Homo sapiens: one gene and its partner. The protein of the gene in region 2 interacts with the protein of the main gene of each other region in a biochemical or structural test. Each region holds a gene or a part of one and is shown on either strand. Other genes may lie near its edges.

Region 1 (7,036 bases), on a different chromosome or scaffold from region 2:
TTAGTTATAATTTATTCACATATTTATGTACTTGTATAAAACTTTCAAAACTTAAAAGTGCAGTTGTCAAGAACTATAAAGAACCTGAGATTTCATTCTTAGGACAAGATAATAGTGAATTTGTCAGAATTTTGTAGATGCTGGTAGGAGGGGTAAGACTCCTGGGTTACAGATCAAAGACAGTTTATTACAACAGTTGCAGGATCCAGAATACAGTAGTCTCCCCCTTATCTGCAATTTCATTTTCCACAGCTTTAGTTACCTACAGTCAACCACCATCCAAAAATATTAAATGGAAAATTTTAGAAATAAACAATTCATTAGTTTTGAATTGTGTGCCGTTTTGAGTAGCGTGATGAAATCTCACACCATCCCGCTCAGTCCTGCTCAAGAGGTGAATCATCTCTTTGTCCATATCCGTATCCATATCCATGTTCTAGACACAACCTGCCTGTTAGTCACACAGTAACCATCTCAGTTATCAGATAGAAAAAACACAGTACATATTACATTAGGGTTTGGTACTATCCACGGTTTCAGGCATCCACTGGGGAACTTGGGATGTATCCCCTGCACGAGAGGGGGAATTACTGTATTACTATTTTTGTGCCAGTTTCTGAATCCCAATTCCTACAGCATGACGTGAAGAGGGTTGTATTATTATAGGAAAAGAACCGTGAGCTTAGAGAATCAGGTTTTTTTTAAATAATATTAAGACAGTAAGTATGCTTTCCCTTTGGAAAAAGTATACTTTCCCTTCCTCCTATGGAAGGAGACCCTATCTCTTATCTTCCAAGGTTGTTTGCTTTACAAACATCCTTGGAAAGATAGTTTATCAAAAAGGACAATCGTTGTCTCTCTTGCAGGGCATACAAAAATGCAAGAAACCCATGGGGGTCCCAAAATCAATTACTTATACTTTAATTTGTATGTAGTTGCATTTGTTTATATGTTTTTAAAACATATTTGTGTTTTCTTTACTTGATATATACTTGGTACATAATGCTAACATTTATATGTTATATTTGTGTTATATATATATAACACAAATATAATATATTTGTGTTCCTATTTGTGTTTATTTTTACTTACATGAAATAGTTCCAGTATTACTAGTATTATATGTTGTAAATATGTTCATCTGTTTACATTTATATTGTTTCTAATGTTTCTATATGTGTTGGTATTTATATTAATTTTTTTATGTTTTCAAGGTTAGTTGAGGTGGGGGCTGGGCAGGGCTCACAAGCCAATTCCAGGCTGCCTCCTATATCCTGCCAGCCCTGTCAAAAGGTTGTATGAGTGAAATGGCATTGGCTCCACCTGGGTGCTAACCCATCATGGCCCATCCCTAGCCCCACAGGAGACAGGATCCGAAGCAAAGTTGAGCTGACTCGATACCTGGGCCCTGCGTGTGATCTCACCCTCTTCGACTTCAAACAAGGCATCTTGTGCTATCCAGCCCCCAAGGTACTTCACAACATGAGATACCTAGGTAGGGGTGGATGTGCCACCCAACACCCAACCACTGACCCATATTCCTCCTTCCCTTACTTTCCAGGCCCATCCCGTGGCGGTTGCCAGCAAGAAGCGAAAGAAGCCTTCAAGGCCAGCCAAGACTCGGAAACGTCAGGTTGGACCCCAGAGTGGTGAGGTCAGGAAGGAGGCCCCGAGGGATGAGACCAAGGCTGACACTGACACAGCCCCAGCTTCATTCCCTGCTCCTGGGTGAGTGTTGGTCTAAGGTGAGCCAGATGGGTGAGGGTTGTGATTGGGGGTGCTCTTGGAGCCCCACACCTGCCTTTCCCATCCCAGGTGCTGTGAGAACTGTGGAATCAGCTTCTCAGGGGATGGCACCCAAAGGCAGCGGCTCAAAACGTTGTGCAAAGACTGTCGAGGTGAGTGGCCTCCAGAGGATGGGGCATCGGGAGATAGGAGCTGGAGCAGGTCCAGTGTCATGCTAGGCTGGGGTTTGAATGTGGATGTCAGGACAGAGGCTACTGGCATGGTTGGAGGTTGGATATTGGAGATAGCAGGCATAGGTAGAGGTTGAATAGTGGAAGTCAGGGCACAGGCAGTGAGTGAAGTCAGATGTCTGTTGCTTCCTTTCCACTTTTCTTCTTCCCTCTTCCTCCCCACAGCACAGAGAATTGCCTTCAACCGGGAACAGAGAATGTTTAAGGTAAGCACAACCTGCTTCCTCTTCACAACTCTGCAGTGGGAGCAGGATGTGATGGAGCTGGTAGAGTCTGAAGGGATGATGATGGGTCCACAGGATGAAGAGTCATTTTATAGGGTGCTCTCCATAGGTCAGCAGACACAATAATGGGAATTAATGGGGTAATTAATCCCCATTACCATTAGTGCATCAGTAGACACAGTGATGAAGTGAACAGGGGACCAGTAGACATACTAATGGCCTCAGTGATGGTGACTAACCAGACCTTCTCAGATACGGTGATGAGGCTAATGGGGGACTAAAATTCATGGTGATGCCAGCTGATGTAGGGTCAGTAGACATGGGAGGACCAGTGCTTCTGGAGCAGGCCCGTGATCTCGTCCCTACCATTCCTGGCAGCGTGTGGGCTGTGGGGAGTGTGCAGCCTGCCAGGTAACAGAAGACTGTGGGGCCTGCTCCACCTGCCTCCTGCAGCTGCCCCATGATGTGGCATCGGGGCTGTTCTGCAAGTGTGAACGGAGACGCTGCCTCCGGATTGTGGAAAGGGTGAGTTGGGCAAGTGGAAAGAGCCCAAGGCTCACCTCGGCCCCTGGCCCCCATGGGCTTGGCCCCATGCTTCATGCCTCTGCTCCCACCTGCCCCCCGCCAACAGAGCCGAGGGTGTGGAGTATGCCGGGGCTGTCAGACCCAAGAGGATTGTGGCCATTGCCCCATCTGCCTTCGCCCTCCCCGCCCTGGTCTCAGGCGCCAGTGGAAATGTGTCCAGCGACGTTGCCTACGGGTGAGTTGGGCTGGAGGGAGCAGAGCTCATTCTGCTGTTAAAATCGTCGCTGCCTCTGCTTCCTTTCAACCTGGCCTTGCCTACCTCATGTCTTTCTTTTCTGCCTAACCCTATGCTCGCCTTTCTGGCCCCGCCTACCTGCCTCTGTCTGCCAGCACCTTGCTCACCGCCTGCGTCGCCGTCATCAGAGATGTCAGCGACGCACTCCCCTGGCTGTGGCTCCCCCAACTGTGAGTGCCTCACGCCACCCTCTGTCTGCCTGTCCCATGCATGCTTTCTGCACTTAGGGTGTGGGGAGTTTCTGTGTCTGCCTGGTGCCACCAAGCTGAAACCACCCTTTCTGATCTTTCCCAGGGTAAACATGCCCGCCGCAAGGGAGGCTGTGACTCCAAGATGGCTGCCAGGCGGCGCCCCGGAGCCCAGCCACTGCCTCCACCACCCCCATCACAGTCCCCAGAGCCCACAGAGCCGGTGAGGCCCCAGTGGGTGGAGGGAAGGCACAACCCTGACCTTACCCAGTACCTGCCCTGACCCCACCCCATTTGCCTCTACAGCACCCCAGAGCCCTGGCCCCCTCGCCACCTGCCGAGTTCATCTATTACTGTGTAGACGAGGACGAGCTAGTGAGTGGCCCCACCCTACCTGGATAAGCCTAGAATCTCAGGACGCTTGGTTAACTTCAAAGAAGCAGATGCTGGAATGAGCCTATTGGGGAACAGCAAGGCACAATAATGGGTCCTAGGATGGGATGAGTAGATAATGGAGGACTAATACGGGGTCAGCAGGTGCATGAGAGTGCTTCATGTCACATATACCAACACTCTGGTAGCTGATGTGGGGATTGACAGAGGAGCAGCTAGCATAGTGACTGGGGTTCACCTAGGATGAGCGACAGAGTAGGCACAGTGATGGGAGCTAATAGAGAGTTATCAAAATGTTGCTGGAAATGGGGGTCAGAGACATTTTCTTGGTAGCTAGTGGTGGCCTAGGAAATACAGCAGTGGATACTGTAGTGGAGCAGCCACAGTCCTAATGGTATCGAGGGCCAGCTGGCACAGTGATAGTGGCCAATGTTGAACTAGCGAATGCTGAGGAGTGACTAGTGGGGAGTCAGGAGGCTGAGACTAGTATGCAAGTAGCTCCGTCTTATGGGGCTAGAGGAGCACCAGGACCAGCACTGGAATAGGCGTTGAGGATGGCCTCTCCTAGTCCTAGTTGACAGCACCACCCATTCCCCCCACCCCAGCAGCCCTACACGAACCGCCGGCAGAACCGCAAGTGCGGGGCCTGTGCAGCCTGCCTACGGCGGATGGACTGTGGCCGCTGCGACTTCTGCTGCGACAAGCCCAAATTCGGGGGCAGCAACCAGAAGCGCCAGAAGTGTCGTTGGCGCCAATGCCTGCAGTTTGCCATGGTGGGTGGGGCAGGAAGGGTCAGGTGGACGGGATAGGTTGGGCCAGGCGCCCCAGTGCCTGGAAGTGGTGGGCAGGCTTGGTAGGTGGGTGGGTGGGGCAGTAGCTTTGGTTGAGGATTAACAGACATTGTTCTTGGCTTAATGAGTCTAGGTGGCATTGGTGTTGCTAATAGGAGACTAGCAGGCTCAGTGATGAAGGGCTCATATGTAAGCAGATTCCGTGCTGGGACTGATGGGAGATTAGCAGGCATGTGGAGCCGGGCAGGGTGGATGTGATTGGTCAGGACACCAGGTAGCCATAGCACCCTATCTTTCCCCATAGAAGCGGCTGCTGCCCAGTGTCTGGTCAGAGTCTGAGGATGGGGCAGGATCGCCCCCACCTTACCGTCGTCGAAAGAGGCCCAGCTCTGCCCGACGGCACCATCTTGGCCCTACCTTGAAGCCCACCTTGGCTACACGCACAGCCCAACCAGACCATACCCAGGCTCCAACGAAGCAGGAAGCAGGTGGTGGCTTTGTGCTGCCCCCGCCTGGCACTGACCTTGTGTTTTTACGGGAAGGCGCAAGCAGTCCTGTGCAGGTGCCGGGCCCTGTTGCAGCTTCCACAGAAGCCCTGTTGCAGGTGAGGGCCCCACCCTGTCCTGCCTTCCCAGCCTCACCCAGCTGCATGCCAGGGAGCTGAGACCAAGTCTGCTGCAATCCTCCCTCACGCAGGAGGCCCAGTGCTCTGGCCTGAGTTGGGTTGTGGCCTTACCCCAGGTGAAGCAAGAGAAGGCGGATACCCAGGACGAGTGGACACCAGGCACAGCTGTCCTGACTTCTCCCGTATTGGTGCCTGGCTGCCCTAGCAAGGTGGGGGCAGTGATGGATGTTCTGTTGGTGCCGTAGCGGAGTGGTCTGTAAGCAGAGTGATGATGAGCCATGATGGTTCTCTTGAGCAGAGCAATAGATGTGCTGATTGCGACGTTTCTGCAGAATTACCCCGCCTGTCTAACAGACACCCTACCTCCCACAGGCAACTAGCTTTGCCCGCTTTGCTATCCAGCTAACAGAAAAACGGAGGTCAGTGAGGAATGGGAATGGGAAAGCTTTGTAGGCAGAGAGATGGACTTTCTGTGTTGAAATGTGATGGAAGTAGGATTTGTCAGCACAGTGAGGGGTTGGCTGATAGAGACTTTCCTCAGGTGAACTCTGCCCTTCTAATGGTTGCCTGTTTCCTACTTCTCCCAGGCAGTAGACCCAGGCCTGCCTTCTGTGAAGCAAGAGCCACCTGACCCAGAGGAGGACAAGGAGGAGAACAAGGATGATTCTGCCTCCAAATTGGCCCCAGAGGAAGAGGCAGGAGGGGCTGGCACACCCGTGGTCAGTGCTGGGGATGCCCCACCCTGCCCTGACCCTGCTGTAGCCCCAACAACCACATTGACCTATGGTGTTAATTCTTCTCTAGATCACGGAGATTTTCAGCCTGGGTGGAACCCGCTTCCGAGATACAGCAGTCTGGTTGCCAAGGTGTGCCCCACACAGTGAGGGGTGGGGAAGGAGTGGGTGTTGGCCAGATGTGGGCCCTGAGTTTTGAAAGTATAGCCGGCAGTTTGGCATGGTGTGGTGGGAGGTAAAGGCCCATACCCACTATGCTGGTCACAATTAATGAGGGGCGTGTGTGTAGGACCCTAGAGATTTCTCCTGAGATCCAGCCCAATAGCATTCCAGGTTAGGACTCTCCTTTGGGGGTAGGGGAAAGACTTGGTACTCTATCATGAGATTTGAAAGAAAAAGATAGGGAGTCTGGTCCCTATTTTCCTAAGGAATTTCTATAGGGGTCAGCTTTAATATATAAATTCTTATTCAGAGAATAATCATTTGGGTCTTGAAGGCCTTTAGAGTCTCCAGGAGACCTCTGGGTGGGCTGTTGCCTGACATTGAGCAATGTGTACCAGAGAAATGGTGCTGGGCTTGCCTGGGCAGTGGTATGGGCAGGAGATCTGGGTTCCGAGCTGGCTTTGTGAGCTGGGTTCACACGTAGTTGTGTGATCTCTGGTTGCCCTGCACTTCCTGGAGCGGCCTCTGTGGAAGGGCTTGGGCTGGATCTCTTGAGCCTTTCCTGAGCCTATTGAGGTTATTAACTTCAGATGCCTTGCAGAACTGTCCCTGTAGTCCTGGCATAGAACAAAGGGTAGATGCCTGTAAGGACTAGGGTGGTTGGGAGGACAGAGGAGTGCTGGCTCCTGCAGAATATTGACAGACCCTGCATAGAGCCCCAGACACTGGCGATGTAAACTATTGGCCTAAGCACTTGGATTCCTTTGCTCCTACAAACCAGCCCACCAGGCTAGAAACCCTTTCATCTATACTTGGCCAATTACAGAAGTATTGATTGAGTTCCTGTTGGGTGCACAGCATTGAGGACAATGAGCCCTGCAAAGCTTACCCTTCAGGAGACACAGGATACCTACCTTCAGGGAGCTTATAATCTGACTATGTACAAGCTGTCTATAATGGTAGTTTTTAGAAGATATAAAAAAAGATAAAGGATAATTAAGGGGAAGTGGATGGAGGACACAGAATAGTAGGAAATGGTTTTGTAATGCTCCATTGCGCACATAGCAAACCTCATTCAACATACAGACCTGCTCCCTTTTCCCTAGGTCCAAAGACCTTAAAA
Region 2 (7,036 bases):
GATTCTGAGCATCAGACAAATGTAACAAGATCCCTTTTTGAGCATGAGGGGGCTTGTAGTCTAAAGTCCAGTTGCTGTCCACCCAGTGTATTGAGTGGTGTTGTTCAGATGCCAGAGTCTACAGTAACCAGTACCGTGGGTGACAAGAAAACTGACCAGATGGTTTTCCATTTAGAAACAAACTCCAATTCAGAATCACATGATAAAAGGCAAAGTGACAACATTTTATGTTCAGAAGACTCAGGTTTTGTGCCTGTTGAGAAAACACCTAATTTGGTGAATTCAGTCACTTCTAACAACTGTGCTGATGACATTTTGAAAACTGATGAGTGTAGTAGAACCAGTATTTCAAATTGTGAAAGTGCAGACTCAACATGGCAGTCATCACTTGACACTAATAACAACAGTAAGTATATACTTATGCACCTTTTAGAAAAATTAAAATAGTCACTTTTCTTTAGGGTATTTTAAAGTCTCAAATATACAAACCAGTATAGACAGAAAAAAGGTAAATGATGACAATTATTTCACAGTATCTTGTTTCTGAACCATTCTTAGTGAGGTGGGGGACAGGTATCCACCATATTAAAAGGGTAATTATTGCAAAGAAGGAATCAATCACTTTTCCTTAAGTACAAAATATCAAAAGGTGGTTTATAGCAATTATTTGGTTCATTTCATATACATCTCTTCTTATTTTGAAGTTTTATTAGATTAAGAAGGAGGCTAGTTGAAAGAGTGAGTTTTAAAAATTGTTGGTAACCCTATTTCTTTTTTTTTTTTTTTTTTTTTGAGACGGAGTCTCGCTCTGTCGCTCAGGCTGGAGTGCAGTGGCGCGATCTTGGCTCACTGCAACCCCCACCTCCTGGGTTCGAGTGATTTGCCTGCCTCAGCCTCCTGAGTAGGTGGGATTACAGATGGGCACCACTACGCCCGGCTAATTTTTTTTTTTTTTTTTTTTGTATTTTTAGTAGAAACAGGGTTTCACCATGTTGGTCATGCTGGTCTCGAACTCCTGACCTCGTGATCCACCCGCCTTGGCCTCCCAAAGTGCTGGGATTACAGGCGTGAGCCACTGTGCCCAGCCAACCCTATTTCTTTCTATAGAATTGACCTGTAAATCACATGCTAAGTATGATAGATAATATATTCACACATGTGTATATGTGTGTGTAGAGAAAGAGAAGCACCCCAAATAATAAATGAAGTCCTTGGGTTATAACATCATTAAAATAGCAAAAGTGAATTTCATTTGAAGTAGGGTATTTTGTTAATGAAATAGAAAAAAACTGATTTAATGCTATAAATTTTGTGTTCTTGTCTAGACTACAGAATGGTCATTTAACAAGATGAATTTAAAATTCCTTAAAAATAATAACAGTATCATCTATTTCAAATATGTATAATAGGCTGGGTGTGGTGGCTCATGCCTGTAATTAACAGCACTTTGGGAGGCCGAGGCAGGAGGATCGCTTGAGCCATCCAGGCTAGCCTGGGCAACAGATCCAAGACCCTGTCTCTTAAAGAAAAAAAAAGAAGCCGGGCGCTGTGCCTAACGAATACAATCCCAGCACTTTGGAAGGTTGAGGCAGGTGGATCACCTGAGGTCAGGAGTTCAAGACCAGCCTGGCCAACATGGCGAAACCCCGTCTCTACTAAAAATACAAAAAAAATTAGCCAGGCGTGGTGGTGGGCACCTATTATTATTATCGCAGCTACTTGGGAGACTGAGACAGGAGAATTGCTTGAACCTGGGGGGCGGAAGTTGCACTGAGCCAAGATCGTGCCACTTCACTCTTGCCTGGGCGACAAGAGTGAGACTCCTTCTCAAAATGAAAAAAGAGTACCTTTATATAAAATAACGTAGAACCACTTAAGTCACTATAAATAGAGAATTAAATGCCATAATTTGTTAAGTTTTTGTTCGTATATGTGTATTGAGTTATTAAGTAAGATTAAAGGGACAGAGTATCTGAGACCAGAACCCTACCTAAGATAACTCATTTTTTTTCAAGGTTAGTTTGTGGGTACGTATTTATGCAATTGAATGTTCTAAAAAATGCTGCAGTGTCACATTTTAGTTTTTCCATTTGCTCAGAGGGTCTCTAAATTAGAGAATTCCTATTTCCTTCTCTTTTTTCCTCCTTGAAACAGGGTCTCACTGTGTTGCCCAGGCTAGAGTGCAGTAGTCAAGGTGCTCACTGCCACCTCAACCTCCCAGCCTCAAGCAATCCTCTCACCTCAACCTCCTGAGTAGCTGAGACTACGGGCATGCCCCACCATACCCAGCTAATTTTAAATTTTTTGTGGAGATGAATTTTCACTATGTTGCCCAGGCTGGTCTTGAACTCCTGGCCTTAAGCCACCCTCCCTCCTTAGCCTCCCAGAGTGCTGGGATTACAGACATGAGCCACCACACTGAACCTGTTTTTTTCTTTAAAATATCTTTCTTTCTAATCTTTTGATCTCCTCAAGGCCATTATCAAAAGAAGAGGATGTTTTCAGAAAACGAGGAAAATGTTAAACGCATGAAAACTTCAGAGCAAATTAATGAAAATATTTGTGTAAGTTTGGAAAGGCAAACAGCATTCCTGGAACAGGTAAAATATTGGGGCTTAAATGGAACTTTTACTTTTGATTAGTAAAACATGGTAAAAGTTAATTATCTGGTCCCCACAGTGGCATAATACAGACGACTTTCACTTGCTGCAGAGCTGGTGTGTGAAAGCCAAATTATCAGACAGACTGGGGAGAGATAACTACTTACATTACCAAAACAGCTCTGGTTTCTTGAAAATGGTCTCATGCAGAATAACCTAGGGATCATGTGTAGGTAGAGTCCTGTTGCAAAAAGAGAATGGGCTTTCAGTCAGTATTACACTCATATTTGTCTGTAAGTCAGACACTGCATGACCTTCAGCTTTATTAAAGAATCCAGTCTCTTTTGTACTAGTCATGGGGTTCTTAGATCTGCAGCTCTATCCATTTGTAGATCTCACCACAACCCAGAAGACTCAAACAACCTGGAAGTCCATTGCAAAGTCCCTGTGCATTCAGGTTTACTTGCCCTATTTTCCAAACTTAAACGGATATGGTACATTATCTGACATTTTGCTGTATAGCATCATTAAATACACTTCTTGCTTTCATTGTGGCCTCATTTTATCTCATTGTACTACAGTCTCAGTATGCGTTTGATCAATTGTTAGCTGAAGTGTATGTAGCGTGTTTCAGTTCTAGTAGAATGGTTATACTGAGGACGGGTTTTGATGACCATGTTTTCCTATTTCACTACCACTAGAATGCCACCACTACAAATCATTACCTAGTAGACTAATGTCTTCCAGCTGTAATGGACCGAAATTTCCCCGTCTAAACTACCCTGCAAACTGTTTCAGAAACAGAAACACTACCATTTTTTAAAACAGACCATTACAATTACATAGTTACATATACTATGAATGTGTATTCTTCACCTAATAATAAGGGAAAATAAAGGGAAAGAGTTACGCAGAACCAGCTTAAAGGGCGAGTCAACAGTTTTTCTGTGTCTCCCTTTTGGTTTTCTTCGAAGAAGACCAAAGGAGACAGTAAAAAATATGTAAGTGTTCTGTTGTTGGCAGGGAAAGGGTAGAAGTATGGTAAGCATGGATCCTAGCCCTAAGGACCATGTTATTCAAGAAGAAGGTTGGGGATTCCAGCTGTGTCTTGTTTCCAGTAATTAGTAGCTGAAGTGAGAAGTAAGTTTTTGTTTGTTTGTTTGTTTGAGGCAGAGTCTCACTTTGTCACCCAGACTGGAGTGCAGTGGCACAGTCTCGGCTCAGTGCTACCTCCACCTCCTGAGTAGTTGGGACTACAGGTGTGCACTAGCACACCCAGCTAACTTTTTGTGTGTATTTTTAGTAGAGACAGATTTTACCATGTTGGCCAGGCTGGTCTTGAACAGCAGTTTCAGTGATCCGCCCGCCTCGGCCTCCCAAAGTGCTGGGATTACAGGTGTGAGCCACCGCGCCCAGCCAGAAGTAACTTCTGATGTGTACATAACCATCTCTAAATAGCTAGCTTTTCCTCACTTCTTATTGCTGTCCAAACAGTTGTCTCTCTCAACCATATCTAGATGTTTACCTTGTTTGAATCTCAATGAGATAGCCCTCCCCGTCATTCTGACATTGTTCTCCCCTACTGAAGGAGTCCTGCAGTGATCATTTCTTAGCCTTTTGAGGTTTCATAAGGAGCATGGCCGGGTTAATTCCAGTTAAATTACTGAAGAGGAAGGGTTTTTCCTTTACAGTCTTAAGTTATTCACTCTACCCATTATCTCAGAAAGTTGGCACAGATTGGAGATAAGTTTGTACTTTCTCCAAACTTTAGGCCAGTTTGGCTGCCATCTCCACTTTGAAGCCAGGACTTCAATCTGATTCCCTGTTGATGGGCACATTACCATTGGTAAAAACATTTATGAGGTATTTGATGGAGGTTATTGTGTCTTCCTTTTGTATAAGGAACATTACCATTAAATTAGAACAAGTGTATAGTCTAACCAAGAGGAGTTGCCCCATGGTGGGTACTTAGTCAAAAATGATCAAATTTAAGGACCTGTCCCAATGTGAACCACCAGGAGTACTTGTTTAAATTGTGGTTTCTTGAGCTAATAGTTGAAGACTGTTGTTGTAGGCTACTGCTTTCTCAAACGTACCTGATAAAAATCATTTGTAGTAACTGTTTAGTATACAACTTTCCAGGCTCCTTTCCAAAAGATTGTGTTTGGTGGATCCAGGATGTGGCCTAGGAATTCGATTTTTAACAACCATCCCATGTGATTGTTCCTCACCAAGGATGAGGAACACTGTTAGAGAAACACTGTACAAAACAGTGTTTCCACGTTCAAAAGATTTAGATTTGTTTCTCCAAGATTCATGTGGGTATGAGCTTCACATATTGAACCCAGCCAGTGAACTAACAAACATGTGATGATCCATAGAAACCACACGAGTAATAGGTAATGGTCATCGGTAAAAATAATAGTATTGGCCGGGCGTGGTGGCTCACGCTTATAATCCTAGCACTTTGGGAGGCCAAGTTGGGTGGATCACTTGAGGTCAGGAGTTCAAGACCAGCCTGGCCAACAATGGTGAAACCCTGTCTCGGCTAAAAATATAAAAATTAGCTGGACATGGTGGAGCATGCCTGTAGGCTCAGCTACTAGGAAGGCTGAGGCAGGAAAATCACTTAAACATGGTGGGTGAAGATTGCAGTGAGCCGGGATCACGCTGCTGCACTGCAGCCTGAGCAACAGAGCGAGACTCTGTCCCAAAAAATATAATAGTATGTGTTACTGAGCCTTTTTTTTTTAAATAATACATTTTGAGCACATTCATTTGCTCACATGTTTAAAAGTTATGAAAGTAAAAATGACAATCATGTCTAATGTAGAGAAACCATGGAAGAAATGTTAGTGAAGCATTAGAGAAGAGATCAAGTAGACAATGTTGAAGAGTGAGAACACTTGGAAACAGGAAGGAAGAGCCTTGGGAATGATCAAAATTAAAGAATATAATCATCCAGGTGATATCAATATAAGAGTTTAACGTAGGAACTATGTGTTCTATTTTGAGCATCATGAAGCAAGATACTGGAGGAAAAAATATATAAATATTATAAATACCTTAAATGTATCATAACAGGTCATATTAACAAAGACTACTTACACTGTGGTGAAAATTGCTTACCAGGAGGATACACACTGAGTGAAAAACTACAGTGAATGTTTCTGAATGTATGGCTCAGCAGAGCTGCTCATATCAGTGGGCATTGAAATTAATTATTCTCCCTGAAAATGGGCCAGTCTGTTTTCAAAAAAAAAAGATAAGTTCATTAATTTTTCATATTACAGCTACTACGATTTGTTAGAATGGCATGCATTATGGCAGATAACATTGGTAACTACATAATTGTCCTTGGCTATTTTTCCCATTTTTTTTTTTTTTTTGAGACGGAGTCTCGCTCAATCACCCAGGCCTGGAGTACAGTGGTGTGATCTCGGCTCACTGCAACCTCCACCTCCTGGATTCAAGCAGTTCTCCTGTCTCAGCCTCCAGAGTAGCTGAGACTATGTTGCCTGCCACCATGCCTGGCTAATTTTTGTATTTTTAGTAGAGTCGGGGTTTCACCATGTTGGTCAGGCTGGTCTTCAACTCCTGACCTCGTGATCTGCCCACCTCGGCCTCCCAGAGTGTTGGGATTACAGGCGTGAGCCACTGCACCCGGCTGGCTTCTTTCAGTTTTAGCACCGTGCTCTAACTAGCTGAGCTAACCAACTGATTGATATTATTTCAATTTTAACAATAAGAAAGCCACCCCCTAAAACAATTATGGAAGTAATGGTGATTATCTTACATATTTACTTCTTTCATATCAATTCAGTGTTTTTTATTTTATGGTGCTCTTTTGCGTATTACCTTATGTTCCTATAAAAATCCTTTGAGTATCACTTGTTCAACATTTATTATATTATCTACTCATTTGTCAACAAGGAAAATGAAGCTCAAAAATAATGTGACTGACTAAAGGGTCAAGTAGCTTATTAGTGGTAATGTCAAGTCTCACACTTGTGTAATTTGTTCTATATCTACTACAGACCAACCAACCATTTTCATCAGGTGCTGGTTTTCAGATAAGTAGAGTTCCTTTATATGGAATACTAACTAGGAGTTATGGATATTAAAAAATATAAATGGCATATAGTCTTTTAATTGTTTCTATAATGTATAGTATGGAATTCAAGTGGAACTATAGGAAACTAAAGTTAGCATTATGAGAATAAATTTAATTTCTAACATGTCCAGTATACTTAAATATTGGATGTGTTCTGAGTTTAATATTCAAGTTTTGAAAAACTTACTGGTATAGTTATATAAACATACAAATATAAATAAACTATATTTAATTGGTTACAGTAAATCTGGAAAAGAGCAAGGCTTTTTAAGTAGAAAGTAAAATTGCTTTTAAATTTGAAACGTAGGGTGTTTTGGTTTTT

What was found. The genes of interacting proteins can lie anywhere in the genome.
Region 1: the proteins of ATF7IP2 (region 2) and MBD1 form a complex in vitro, tested with the Homo sapiens proteins (one study listed by BioGRID).

The regions. Positions count from the first base shown.
Region 1 is NC_000018.10:50,271,524-50,278,559, reverse strand, and holds part of MBD1 (methyl-CpG-binding domain protein 1), read left to right. Parts: intron 1-1,355; coding exon 1,356-1,470; intron 1,471-1,561; coding exon 1,562-1,728; intron 1,729-1,815; coding exon 1,816-1,898; intron 1,899-2,141; coding exon 2,142-2,182; intron 2,183-2,578; coding exon 2,579-2,725; intron 2,726-2,831; coding exon 2,832-2,960; intron 2,961-3,115; coding exon of another isoform or gene 3,116-3,190; intron 3,191-3,314; coding exon 3,315-3,431; intron 3,432-3,514; coding exon 3,515-3,583; intron 3,584-4,206; coding exon 4,207-4,374; intron 4,375-4,696; coding exon 4,697-4,996; intron 4,997-5,088; coding exon 5,089-5,226; intron 5,227-5,604; coding exon 5,605-5,736; intron 5,737-5,821; coding exon 5,822-5,883; intron 5,884-7,019; coding exon 7,020-7,036. UniProt on the Homo sapiens protein: Transcriptional repressor that binds CpG islands in promoters where the DNA is methylated at position 5 of cytosine within CpG dinucleotides. Binding is abolished by the presence of 7-mG that is produced by DNA damage by methylmethanesulfonate (MMS).
Region 2 is NC_000016.10:10,431,050-10,438,085, forward strand, and holds part of ATF7IP2 (activating transcription factor 7-interacting protein 2), read left to right. Parts: coding exon 1-406; intron 407-2,464; exon of another isoform or gene 2,465-2,475; coding exon 2,476-2,600; intron 2,601-7,036. UniProt on the Homo sapiens protein: Recruiter that couples transcriptional factors to general transcription apparatus and thereby modulates transcription regulation and chromatin formation. Can both act as an activator or a repressor depending on the context.